2 linked regions of the Homo sapiens genome follow. The protein of the gene in region 1 interacts with the protein of each later gene in a biochemical or structural test. Each region holds a gene or a part of one and is shown on either strand. Other genes may lie near its edges. The genes, in order: BST2 and LILRA4.

Evidence for each region.
Region 2: the proteins of BST2 (region 1) and LILRA4 form a complex in vitro, tested with the Homo sapiens proteins (2 studies listed by IntAct).

Annotation. Positions count from the first base shown.
Region 1 is NC_000019.10:17,404,002-17,407,912, reverse strand, and holds the start of BST2 (bone marrow stromal antigen 2 precursor), read left to right. Parts: upstream 1-2,282; 5' UTR 2,283-2,337; coding exon 2,338-2,622; intron 2,623-3,475; coding exon 3,476-3,542; intron 3,543-3,723; coding exon 3,724-3,784; intron 3,785-3,911.
Region 2 is NC_000019.10:54,337,574-54,341,484, forward strand, and holds the start of LILRA4 (leukocyte immunoglobulin-like receptor subfamily A member 4 precursor), read right to left. Parts: upstream 1,590-3,911; 5' UTR 1,521-1,589; coding exon 1,487-1,520; intron 1,329-1,486; coding exon 1,293-1,328; intron 1,108-1,292; coding exon 823-1,107; intron 663-822; coding exon 363-662; intron 124-362; coding exon 1-123.

The sequences.
Region 1 (3,911 bases):
GGGAAGACGCCCGTTGCCCGAGCGGACAGTGGTCTAGCGGTAGCGAAAAGTGTCAAGGAACAACACCCACTACTTAGCAGACCGGGAAAGGGAGGCTCCTTTTCCCTGGGGGAGTTTGGAGAAGACTCTGCTCCTCCACCTCTTGTGGAGGGCCTGACATCAGTCAGGCTCGCCCGCGGTTATCTGGCAGCCTAACCGTCTCCCTGTGATGCTGTGCTTCAGTGGTCACGCTCCTAGTCCGCCTTCATGTTCCATCCTGTACACCTGGCTCTGCCTTCTAGATAGCAGTAGTCATTTAGTGAAAGTACTAAAAGTCTCTGATATGCAGAAATAATGGCATAAGCTGTCTTTCTGTCTGTCCCCTCTCTCTCTCTCTGCCTCGGCTGCCAGGCAGGGAAGGGCCCCCTGTCCAGTGGACACGTGACCCACGTGACCTTACCTATCATTGGAGATGACTCACACTCTTTACCCTGCCCCTTTTGCTTTGTATCCAATAAATAACAGCACAGCCAGACATTCGGGGCCACTACCAGTCTCCGCGCATTGCTGGTAGTGGTCCCCCGGGCCCAGCTGTCTTTTCTTTTATCTCTTCGTCTTGTGTCTTTATTTCTACACTCTCTCGTCGCCGCACACAGGGAGAGACCCACTGACCCTGTGGGGCTGGTCCCTACAGTAATTTTAAAGGGAAGAGCAACAAACTTTCGGTTTGCAGGGCTGGGACTGTTTACAGCTGCAAAATTTAGAGAGGACATCAATCTATTATTATCCACATTTTACAGCTGGGGAAATCAATGCTAAGAGAGGAAATTCATTTGCCCAGAGGTGCACCACCCTGGCCTCCAATGTGCAATTCATGCAATTGTGATTTCCGACCTGGTCCCAAACTAACCCTAAAGTTAGCAGGCCAGAACAGTGCTGCTCAAATAAGTCAGCTTAGTCAAATAAGTCAGGCAAAGGTCGTGTCTTTGCACCTGGAGTCCTGGCCAGGCTGGTAGGTCCCTCCTCCTGGGACAAGTTCACCCTCAGAATTTTCAGCAAGATCATCTCCCACAGCTTGTTAATTGGTTCTTGGTTCTAAGTGATTTTTTTGTTTATTGGTTTAAGAGATGGGATCCCACTCTATCACCCAGGCTTGAGTGCCGTGGCACAATCATAGCTCGCTGCAGCCTCAAACTCCTGGGCTCGAGTGATCCTCCTGCCTCAGCCTCCCAGCCTCAGCCTGGGACCACAGGCATGTACCACCATGCCTGGCTCTAAGTGGCTTTAATGGGGTCCTTCTGAGGGATGTTGGAGTCAGGGCCTGGGGGGAGTTCCCCAGGCCTTCTGGGAGGCCTGGGCTCTGGACTTGACCTCGCCTACTGTCTGGCCCTGCTGAAAAGAAAAAAAAACATGGAAATGGCAGACCTAACAGAATCTGGGCTGTGGTCAGGATGTGGCTGAAGAAGCCACAAGAAAAACATGCAGTCCCCTTTCAGCGGTCATGCCCAGCAGTTGGGTGCCGATAATGGGCCTGATTTCCTGTAGGAAGCCCTGGCTCTCTTGGCCACATGGACAGTGTCTGAGGCTGGCCCTGTTATTCCCCTTTGCAGATGAAGAAACAGGCTCAGAGAGTTTACCTGGTATCCTGGAGTCCCAGGAGCACTTTTTCTGGAAGTAGGAGCTTGTTTCCTGCAGGTGCCAAGACAGAGACCGACATTGTTTGTTGGCTGGGTCGGTCTCCCAGTTTTCAGCTGGCTCCAGTCTCACCTGTTGCTCACACACCCTCCATGTCTCCCATAGTCCCCTCGGTGGGGACAGAGGCACTGGATGAAGCCCTGCTCGTCACCACAGAGACACCTGAACACAAAAACCAGTCCCTGGGGTCAGACCCAGGCCCCGCCCCCAGACCCAGGCCCTGCCCTCACTCCACCACGCAACTGTGCAACCTCAGTTTCCCCAGGTGGAGACCGGACCAACAGTGATGGCCTCTGCCTCTTCAGGTCATAGTACAGATGAATACAGGCTGGCACGGCCTAGGCACTCAGTAACACACAGCAGAGGCACAGGGACTTAAGATGGAGTGTCCCAGGCAGCCACAGTTGGCTGGCACCCAGCTGGGAAGGGCCCAAGGGCTTTTAAAGCAGGGTGAAAAAAAAGCCCACCTCCTTTCTGGGAAACTGAAACTGAAAACCTAATTAATCCTCTGCCTGTAGGTGCCTCATGCAAGAGCTGCTGGTCAGAGCACTTCCTGGAACTTGCTATTGGTCAGGACGTTTCCTATGCTAATAAAGGGGTGGCCCGTAGAAGATTCCAGCACCCTCCCCTAACTCCAGGCCAGACTCTAAAGGGGAGATCTGGATGGCATCTACTTCGTATGACTATTGCAGAGTGCCCATGGAAGACGGGGATAAGCGCTGTAAGCTTCTGCTGGGGATAGGAATTCTGGTGCTCCTGATCATCGTGATTCTGGGGGTGCCCTTGATTATCTTCACCATCAAGGCCAACAGCGAGGCCTGCCGGGACGGCCTTCGGGCAGTGATGGAGTGTCGCAATGTCACCCATCTCCTGCAACAAGAGCTGACCGAGGCCCAGAAGGGCTTTCAGGATGTGGAGGCCCAGGCCGCCACCTGCAACCACACTGTGGTAAGCTCCTCAACTCCTTTGGATGGCCTAGTACTAGGCGGTGGGAGGGACAAGAATCTCTCCCCAGAAATCTGACCCAGGGTGGGTCTCCAGGGAGATGCAGGGGAGGTCCTGAAACTGCTCCTGGGCCCCCACATCAAGGGACCTAGGTTCCCCTACCAGGGTTTGTGGGCCCCTAACCCAGTCCAGGGCACTGGTGTAGGGGCAGGGTGTTAAAACTCTCCAGATCCCCCAAATCGGGGACCTCAGTATCCCCCTGGGACTTAGGTGAATTTATAAATTCTTTCCAGGGCACTGGTGTCGGGGGCCTTGAAACTCCTCGTGGGCACCAGTCCTGGGGGAGTAGAAATCCCTATTCAGGGTTGAAGGGGGACCTCACCAGACCCTGAAAAAGGGGGCTTTTGAAATTTTCACTTCATCCCTAAGAAACTGAAATATTCACCTGGGTCCTGATATGGGGGATCTTGAAACTCTCGCTGGGCATGTCACTTGGGCGGGGAAATCCCACTGCATTCTGGATTTGGTAGGGCCCTCTAACTTTTCTTGGGCCATTGCTCAGGCAATCTGGAAATGTCCACTAAACTTTGGTTATCGATAGCCTCCAAGTTTCCACGTGGGGTGGCCTCAAAACTCCCATTTTGAGGACCCACATGCTTATGGGTGGCCCTGGGAGAGTGTGTGGTTGTGGCTGTTCTTTAAGGTTGGAGACCATGGTGCAGAGAGGGTTGGAAGAAAACCTGAAAGGGGTTTGCATTTAAGCCCCTCTGTCCCCAGGACCTAGGGAGGAGGCCCAGGTCCCAGGGGCAGCAGCCAAACTCCCCAGGCCAAAACCCCAGATTCTAACTCTTCTTAGATGGCCCTAATGGCTTCCCTGGATGCAGAGAAGGCCCAAGGACAAAAGAAAGTGGAGGAGCTTGAGGGTGAGAAAGGGAGAAGGGAGAGGGCCGGGGAGGGGTGAGTCAGGTATGGAAGAGGGGGTGGGGGCAGGGAGACCAGGGCTGGAGGTTGGGGTAAGGGGGAGGTTCTGTCCCAGAGTGGAGCAGGGCCCCAGCATGGCCACATGCTGACCCGCCCCCTGTTTCTGTCCTCCCACCCTACCAGGAGAGATCACTACATTAAACCATAAGCTTCAGGACGCGTCTGCAGAGGTGGAGCGACTGAGGTCAGAGATAGCCTTCCCCCGCTACCCTCCACCTGCCACATTCCTCTCACCCCCACATCCCTAGCCCAAGACCCAGGATCTCCTTTGCTCCCAAAATCCCCATTGCCCCAAGGGATAAAGTTTGAGT
Region 2 (3,911 bases), about 37 Mb from region 1:
CCCCCTCCTTGTACAGAGTGTATCTGATGTAGCCGACATCAGAGCCACACTGGAGGGTCAGATTCTCTCCGGGGGTCACGACAGGGCCCTGCAGGGTCAGGAGGGAGGGCTTCCTAGACACGCCTGGAGGGAAAGATGAGTTGGGACTCGGAGCGGCTGGTTCCTCCTGCGCCCCTTCCTTCTGTAGCCTTCCTCACTAGGGTTTCCAGCGTCCTTGTTTTTTTCTCATTCTGTATTTGTGTCCCCAGGGCCCCCATCTTCCCCTCATCTTTTCTTCTTGCGTGGGCTAGCCCGAGGGTAAGGCTCCCAACAGCTCACCTGGTGCCCTGACTTTGTATAAGGAAAAGCTACGGCTTCCTCACCTGACACCAGTAGCTGCAGGGGGTCACTGGGTTCCGACCACACGTATGGGGTGTTGTTTTCATAGCCGTAGCATCTGAATGTACCCCTGTTGCTGAAGGTCAGGGGGCCCATGGGGAACAGGGCCTGGAACTTTCCATGGTTGTGTTGGTGTGAGTTCAGGGTCCAGGAGAGCCTGTGGTCTCCTTCCTCAATCAGAGTGAACCTGCCCAGTCCCAGCCGTGAGGCACACCGGAGGGTCACGTTCACTCCTGAGGTCACCACAGGGCTTGGCAGTGCGGACAGGGTGGGTCTGCTGTAGGCTTTCAAGAGAAAAAAAGGCAGCCGTGTTTAAATGGGGCTCACACCTCCCACCTTATCCTACAAGGCTGGGCTGTGAGAAGGGAGACCCCTCGAGAGCTGAGAGCCGACCCCCTTCCCGAGGGCAGAGCCTGGGGCTGGGACCCCTGAGTGTCCTCTCACCTGTCACCACCAGCTCCAGGGGGTCGCTGGGCTCTGACCAGCCTGCAGGGCTCTGATAGTAACAGTGATATCGCCCTGCATGTTCCCACATCATGGATGGGATGGAGAGTTTGACCTTGTTTTCAGACTCCAGTGTTTTTAATATGTGCCTCGACATTGAGTTTCCCTCTTTATCCAGACGGTACCCCTGGGCCTCCAGGGTGCCCTGACACCAGATGGTCACGGGGTTATGCCAGGTGATCACGGGACCTGGCTCGGCCCACAGGATGGGTTTGAGTAGGTTTTCTGGAAGGAAATTACAGGTTAGGTCCCAAGATGTCCTCAACCCTCAGATCCCAGCTCTCAGCCCCAGGACCCCCCTCATCCCCATCAGTCAGCCCAGAACTGCTGTCTTCACCCCCAGCTGCCCAGGGGTGGTCCCTTGTCCCCAGAGAGGAGGAGGGACCTAGGACAGCTGGGGACAGACTCACCTGCCTGCACCCGGGTCCTGGGGCCCAGGCTCAGCCCTGGAAGAGAGTTCCCTGTGAGAGATTTGCCTCCGAAGCCTGAGCAGGTCTTCTTCTTTTCCTTGAGCCCCTGGGATGCCCTAATTGACTAAGGCATGGCTATGGATTGGGGTCTCTCTCCTAGACTAGGGTCTCTCCTCCCCCTCTTAAGATCTCACCAAAGAAGAGCAGGCTTGTGAGAATGAGGGTCATGGCATCTCCTCCTCCTGGCCCTGGCTGTGCAGGCAGGTGTGGCCACGGTGCCCGTAGACACAGACAGACACATGGTGTGCGGGCACACGGAGGCTGGGTCCTCCCCATCACGAGGTTGTCCCATCAGCACACCGACAGAAAGAGGAACTGCCCCTCCCCAGGACCCTGGCTCTCATTTCCCAGGGCTTGTCCTGGGGGTGAGCACCAGGCTCTCTGCCGATATTTCAGACACAAATGGGGATTCACAAGGGGGTCGTTAAGAAGGACATTTTCGGCCGGGCGCTGTGGCTCACAGCTGTCATCCCAGCACTTTGGGAGGCCAAGGTGGGTGGATCACTTGAGGTCAGGAGTTCGAGACCAGCCTGGCCAACATGGCAAAACCCCGTGTCTACTAAAAATACAAAAATGAGCCGGTCGTGGTGGCACATGCCTGTTATCCCAGCTACTCGGGAGGCTAAGGCGGGAGAATCACTTGAACTCCGGAGGCAGAGGCTGCAGTGAGCCGAGATCACGCCATTGCCTTCCAGCCTGGGCAACAAGAACAAAACTCTATCTCAAAAAAAAAAAAAAAAAAGGACGTTTCCATCTCTGTGTGGCACAGAAAAGGAAGTCCAGGGTCCTCACAGACAGGGAGGAACCTAGGGCTCCAGGTGAAAGTGAGACGCTGTGGCTGCCCCTCTTCTGTGTTTGCACATGGGCACTGCCATCTCTCTGCTTCCTTGTGGGAGCCATGAGGGGCAGAAAGAGGAACTGCCCCTCCCCAGGAGCTTGGCTCTCATTTCCCCAGGGCTTGTCCTGGGCGTGAACACCAGGCTCTCTAGAGATATTACAGACAGAAATGGGCTCTCCCCTCACTTTGGCTGCGTCTATCTAATCTGTCCTCATCTCACCAAGGGCCAGGATGTAGCAGCAAACAGACCCGGTGCCTTCTTGATTCAGCCCCTTCCAGGTGAGAGGGACTGATGGTTCCTCCTTCCCTCTCAGAGCCTCCCCATGGAGGAGGCTCCATCTCCCCTGTGTGTGTGTGAAAAACAGGCTGTCTGTGGTATTGTCACACCTGGACATCTGTCCCACACGTGAGTGGGAGGTCACATTGGACTCCGCCTTGCCAGCCACAACTTTGGGCAGATGCTAAGTTTGGAAGAGTTGATGCTCCTGGACAGGAGCAGCTGTAACCACCCGCTCTGGACAGGCCTGATTTCTGAGTCGTCTCTGGGAGAAATGTTCTTTGTAAGATCATGTGCATGGGGGTAGATGGACAGCATGCAGTGTATTTGAGAAGAGATAGACAACTAGAAATTATGTAGGCAGATGTGGCTGTGGTGAAAATAGTAGGTAGAATTAACACACTTAAAAATCAATTCTATGGCCGGGCACGGTGGCTCGCACCTGTAATCCCAGCACTTTGGGAGGCCCAGGCGGGCAGATCACTTGAGGTCAGGAGTTCAAGACCAGCCTGGCCAACATGGTGAAACCCCGTCTCTATACTAAAAATAACAAAAATTAGGCTCATTTTTGAATCCCCTTAAACATTACCAGCCCCTAAATGTCTGCTCTATGGATTCTTCTTTGAATTCAGTATTAACATCTTTCCCGTTCCCTCGTTAATAGTAAGCTAAATAAAAACTTGTGTCCATTTTATCCTTCTAGAAGAGCAATTTTTTTTTACCTTTTTGAAAAAAAAAACTTTACCAAAATATATTTAAGATCAAGAATGCTGGTCATAAGCTGTGAAAATCTATGTCTTGTCTTAATCATTCCATCAGCATAAAAAATGTAGCAATGCATGTGAAGTGTTGGTTCCAGGCAAACCTGCTTAAGACTCAATGTTCAAGGTTGTTATTAGGTGGGGGCCATATAGGCATAATGGTCAGTCACAGGGAAACCAGGGAAAAGCTGCTGTTCATCAGCATTTTTTTTTTTTTACAAACTCATCAACAGTGAGCTACATTGTTTGCGGAAATGGCCTAGTCAAGACACAGTAGAATTCAGTGCTGCAGTCACACAACACCAGCTTATCTCTTAGGAACATAGGGAACATTCCAGGAGCCATGTTTAGGAACTAGATGCCAGCTAAGGACCAACTTTACAAGCAAACTCTCCCAACGTTATCACCCTTGCAGCTGTGAGATTAACTCGTTCTTGCACACCCTGTACCTGAAAAAAATAATAGTCCTCTTGAATGCAGCAGCACCTTGTTCACCCGGAACATGCCTCCGCTCCTCCAGATTCTTCCCGCCCTATCTCAGTTTTTTTCTGCAGATTCTCCAAGGTTCTGCAAACTGTAAGCAGTAAATCCACACTCAACTTGAGTTTTCATGAGGGAAGCCGTCTGGGGCCTTCTCTGGCTGTGCTGAGCCTGAACGAGCATCCCCCAGAGGCCACCGGGAT